Regions from separate parts of the Homo sapiens genome. Here region 2 is linked to region 1. A link means that fine-mapping ties the variant in region 1 to the expression of a gene that starts in the linked region. Tissue or cell type: whole blood. Region 1 holds a variant in brackets; the other region holds the start of a gene. All regions are shown on one strand. Distances are from middle to middle.

Region 1 (2,760 bases):
CTAGGACAAGAGTGGAGAAAAGGGAAAGAAAGCAGAAGCCTGGGTAGGCTCAGGGTTTGCCCAGGTGCTCTTGAGATGGACAAAGAATGGGCGAAAATCCCTTGGGCTTTTAAAAGGTTGTGTGGCCGGGAGGGACTGGAGCCCTGGGCGAGATGCCTGCCTGAGTGAGGTGGGGTTGCTGGGCACAGTCAGACTGTGTGAAGACTGTGTGAGTGTGAGATTATCCTGGGCAGAACTAAACAGCTTTCTGGACTCAAGGGGAGGAGGCAGGTTTGGAGTTAATGCCCCGCCATGCTTGAGTAGCTTAAATAAAGGTTACCTGGACTATTTCCTTTCTCCAGCAGCTACGTTACTCTGTCTCTGAAGCCATGGGGGAACCCCAGAGGCAGACATCAGCGTGTCCAGGTTGTAAAATCAGACTTGGAGCGCCAGGCAGGGAAGAAAGCACTTCGGCATGTTTTCTGCCTCACTGCAAAATAAATGTATAAGCATTCCAGGGAAACTGCAGGGAGAGGGGAACATTCTTCAGCAGGCAAGGAAGGATAAATGCAAAGTAAACGTATAAGGCTTATAATTACTCATTTGAAGTGTGTAAAATGTAATTAATATGATCTGTGTTGCAGTGCTGTCTCTCTTGTTTTATTTAAGTGAACATAAAATGTAATTTATGAGGACTTCCCCAGGTTAACTGCCAATATCAATTCCTTGAACTGCGTTTTTTCCACAGCGTCTTAAGTTTCTCAGCAATAAAGTTCTTCTACTACTGTGGGGGTTTTCAGGGACAATTTATGCTGAGGTTTGGGGTAGGGGCTGGTTCTCCTTTACCCCAGACACTCACACCCTCCGCCCCTTAGGCCAGCCTGAAGATGCCAATTCCTATCAGTTATCTTCTCTGTTAATGTGAGGTCTTTTTCATGTCACTGTGATGACAGTGGTATACAGAAAAGGCTTCTAATAAAATTAAACTCACAAATCTAGGAAGCTACCTTTAAATTTCGAATCTTACTCTTCTATTCATAAGCCTTCAACAGATACATTTAGGGTGGCCTTTAATTAATATTTGGTCCTTTAACACACTTAATCTTCTGATAACAATTTAAATTGCATCTAAAATGTCATCTATTTACAGTTATTTTTGAATACTTCATTTGCCCAATTAATGAACAAGCATTTATTTATTCATTTGTTTATTTATTTTGAGATAGGGTCTCAAGCGGTTGCCCAGACTAGAGTGCAGTGGCAGGATCATGGCTCACTGCAGCCTCAACCTCCTGGGCTCAAGCTGTCCTCCCACTTCAGCCTCCCCAGTGGCTGGGACTACAGGCGTGCACCACCACACCTTGGTGGTGTTTGTATTTTTTGTAGAGATGGGGTTTTGTCCTGTTGCCCAGGCAGGTCTCGAACACCTGGGCTCAAGCAATCCACCCGCCTTAGCCTTCCAAAGTGCTGGGATTACATGTGTTCACCATCCTGCCCGGCTCAAGTATTTACATAATAGAAATCTAATGCCTCAAACTTAGAAATATGGTGAATCTTAAGATTTATTTATTTATTTATTTATTTATTTATTTATTTATTGTTTCAGACTCTTCAATTCG[T/C]TAGAGATTAAGTTTGTTTTTTGTTTTTTGTTTTTTTTTTTTGAGATGGAGTCTCACTCTGTCACCCGGGCTGGAGGAGATTAGGTTTTTTAAAATGCTCTAGTATTATATATAAACTTAGATTTCAGCTTAAAATTTCAAATCAAATAAATTGTTCAATTAAGTCTTTCATATTGTATTGCAATGTAGATCTATTCAAAGAGGCCAAAATCTTGAAAATATTAATATTATGGGTTGATTCTTAAACATCTCTATACTTATTTTAAAAACAGTTTTATTGAAATACTATTTACATGTAAAATTCACCCACTTTAAGTGTAGAATTCAATGAATTTTAGCATATTTATAGAGCCGTACAGCATCCCCGCAGTCTAATTTTAGAACATTTCCATCACCCTAGAAAGAAACTCTGTGTCTATTTATTGTCACTTGCCATCCCCACCCCTGGCCTTAGGCAATTGCTGGTCTACTTTCTGTGTCTATGTACTTACCAGTTCTGGACATTTTTTGCACTTCATTTGCAATCATCCTAGGTTTTTAAGAAAACAATTTTGGCATCTCAAACAATATTGGGGTCACCTTCTCAAGCCACTTTTCGGGTTACAGCCTCAGAAGGCTGAAGCTGCTTTCTTCAGAACTGAGCTCTGCTCTGAGTGGGTTCCTGCAGCCTATGACCCAGACTTGAGTCACAGACTGGCTCATTCCAATGTCTTGCCGCCAAAGACCAGACCCACCCAGGTGGCTTCCTTATGTCTTGATTCCTTCCTTGCCTGCCTCGGGCTCACAAACAGCTTTAAGACTTAGTTAAGTGAGAGCTGACTGAAGTCCATCCCGGTGATGTTTGACCTAAGGTCACTGTTCTAAAGTTCTGTACATGACAGCCATGCTCCATTGCCCACCTGCCATCCTTACAGCACCAACTTGGAGGCCACCAGCCAACCTGCTCACCAGCAGCCTCTGGGCTCCGCCTCAGGGTGTTGCTCCACGTCCCAGCAAAACAGCTTAAAAAGCAAAACCGCAGCCAGGAGTTGCATAGATACCTGAACACCCGTGTTCATAGCAGCATGAGTCACGGTGGCCAGAAGGTGGAAGCAACCCTAATGCCCATCAGTGGATGAATGAATAGTGGTATGTATGATGGGATATTATTCAGAATAATAAT
Region 2 (2,500 bases), 130 kb before region 1:
TGATCTCCTATCACCAGAGCAGAAGAATCACTGGAGAACGACTCTGTCTGAAGCTTGTTCAGCCTGGCTTCCTTGAGCAAGCAACTTATTCACAGGTAAGTCCAAATTAATACAGCGCACACCGGCTACATAAATATTGTGCTTTGATTGTCTTCTGTAATCAAAGGCAAGGCTGCTGAGTTTGTTACTTTCCCCACCATGCAACTGCTGGAGGAGAACTCTGGGGGAAGGGAACTGAGGTTGCCCAGGTGGTTTTTGTTGCATGTGTCTAACTGCAAGTTGTGTCTCTGTCTATCGAGGGGAGGATAAGGCCCATTACATTCAGATTCAATAAGAATTTATCAAATGCCTATTTTGTGAGAGGCATTGAAAGACACAGTATCTTATTTCATTTTTAATTGAATTAGTAATGACTTGATAAGGCACAAAGGTTAGTCTAACTAACATTTTTTTTTTCCCTGACATACGAGTGATCCCTACACTATTGGCTGTGTCCACTTTATTGATTGTGAAACAGCCTAAATGCATGGAATTGGAAACTGGAAGTCATTCTACACAATACAAGAAAGCAGCACCATCTTTCCATGTACCTGCCAGTGCTATGGCTGGCTTGGCTTTTCCAGCAGTTTTCTGGACTTGGTTGAGGTGGCTTCCTAGGGGCATTTTCTCACCCCCTCCCAGCTAAGACTGCTGTTAATTTTGAATAATTTGGAGGATGCTCTACCCTTTGGGGTAGCAGAGTTTTGCAACCCACAGATCCCTTTTGCCTTGAGGAATGGTGGTGATGGTGGGTGTCAGAGATTCTGTCTGTATAAGTCCCCGGGAAAGCTCAGCTGTCGCCTGACCCGAGGGTCGTGCAGTTTCCTTAACCCTGACTTTAAGTCAGCCCTCTTTAACCCCGACTCCCAAGCTGGGCTGTCCTTTGAAAGAAAAACGAAACCGCCCAGTTCTGAGCGTCGGAAAATGGGCACTCGCTCCCTGGGGGTTTGGGGCAACTTCCCCGCTACGTCGCCCAGGGATTTTAAATAATTGCCAGCCACCAGAAACCCCCTAACCCTTAATTCTTCCCTCCGAGACCCAGCCCGCTGCTTGCCACTTCCCTCTCCAAACGCTGGCGGGGGTGGGTGGCAGCACCGAGGCGATTTTCTTCGTCTTTTTTTCCTCCGGGTTTTGTCATGGAAACGCTGACACAACCTCCAGACGGCGGCCGAGCCCGGCCGGGGACTGAGGGCTTTTGGGACCCTGCGGGAGCGCGGCGCGCACACCGCACTCCCCGGGCAACAGCTGGACGCGACCATATCCCGGGTAGGGGCGGGGGGAGCGCGACGCTCCGCCCCGGCGCTAGGGTCCCTCCCTCCTCCCGGCTCTCCGCAGGCGCCCTCCCCTCGCCGGGGGCCGCGAGTTGCATTTGGTAAAACCCAGCCCCGGAATATATAGATCGTTGGAGCGCAATGAAGTAGCCTTTGGAGAGAAGGGAGAGGGCCCGTCGGACAGCCACAGCGGCCAGCGCAGCGGCAGCGGCGGCGGCACCACCATCACCGCTCGCACCCCAGCCGCCCGGCCCGCGACCAGGCAGCGGCGGCCGCCGGCGGGATCGGAGGAGGCGGCGGAGCGGCGAGGAGGAGGAGCAGGAGCGCGCAGCCAGCGGGTCCACGCATCTCAGCACTTCCAGACCAACTCCGGCACCTTCCACACCCCTGCCCGGGCTGGGGGCTCCGAGAGCGGCCGCGAAGCGACTCCGATCCTCCCTCTGAGCCTTGCTCAGCTCTGCCCCGCGCCTCCCGGGCTCCGGTCCGCGCGGCGGGGTCCCTGCTCCTGCGCCCCGGGCGCGCTTCCCGGACACCCCGGTCCCCGCAGCCAGGACAAAGCCATGAAGCCAGCGCTGCTGGAAGTGATGAGGATGAACAGAATCTGCCGGATGGTGCTGGCCACTTGCTTGGGATCCTTTATCCTGGTCATCTTCTATTTCCAAAGTATGTTGCACCCAGGTAGGGGGCGCGTTAGCGTGGTTTTGTTGGATATTTTCTTCTCTCTCGCGCTCTAGCTCGCTCCGCCTGATTTCTGCCTCTTCCAACCCTACCTCTCCGCCTTCGGCCTCTTCGGGGCTCCTGGCTGCCCAGAGCTCCTGGCTGCCCAGATCTACCCGGGTCACCGCGTCGGGATGGGGAGGAGAAGGGAAGGTGTGCTTCGCCCTCTTCTTCCTACCGGCTCCGGGCTGGAGGATGGGACCAGGAGGGGCGGTAGTTTTTTTTTTTTTTTTTTTCTTCTTCTTTTTTTCTTTGTGTCCCTTGTCTGTCTGTCTGCGAGGTAGCAGGGAAACGGAGAGGTGTGGGAAGCAACCGGGGGTGAGGGGCTGGTTTGAGGAGAACGAAACTCCCTCCCTGCTGCTGCCGAGGTCGGAGGATGAAAGAGTTACCCGGAGCCGGCTGCTCTGCGCCCGGGCGAGCCGCCTCTTCCTGGTTGCCGGGCCGGGGGCGAAGGGTGTACGCCCCGGCGAGGT

What was found. PIP is the estimated chance that this variant, and not a neighbour inherited with it, causes the effect.
Region 2: it holds the start of CHST11, and the variant in region 1 is fine-mapped to the expression of CHST11 in whole blood (INTERVAL, PIP above 0.99).

What each region holds. Positions count from the first base shown.
Region 1 is chr12:104,586,218-104,588,977 of GRCh38, forward strand. The region is part of intron 1 of CHST11 (carbohydrate sulfotransferase 11); the gene reads left to right. Among named protein-coding and RNA genes, the nearest start is that of MIR3922, 4.0 kb to the right of the region's middle. The variant T/C (reference allele first, on the strand shown) is at 1,599.
Region 2 is chr12:104,455,542-104,458,041 of GRCh38, forward strand. CHST11 (carbohydrate sulfotransferase 11) reads left to right here and starts at 1,407. Exons shown (of 3, transcript NM_018413.6): 1 at 1,407-1,988. The coding sequence starts at 1,871. RefSeq lists enhancers at 1,076-1,125, 1,146-1,225, 2,146-2,195 and silencers at 1,296-1,425, 1,506-1,675, 1,716-1,995.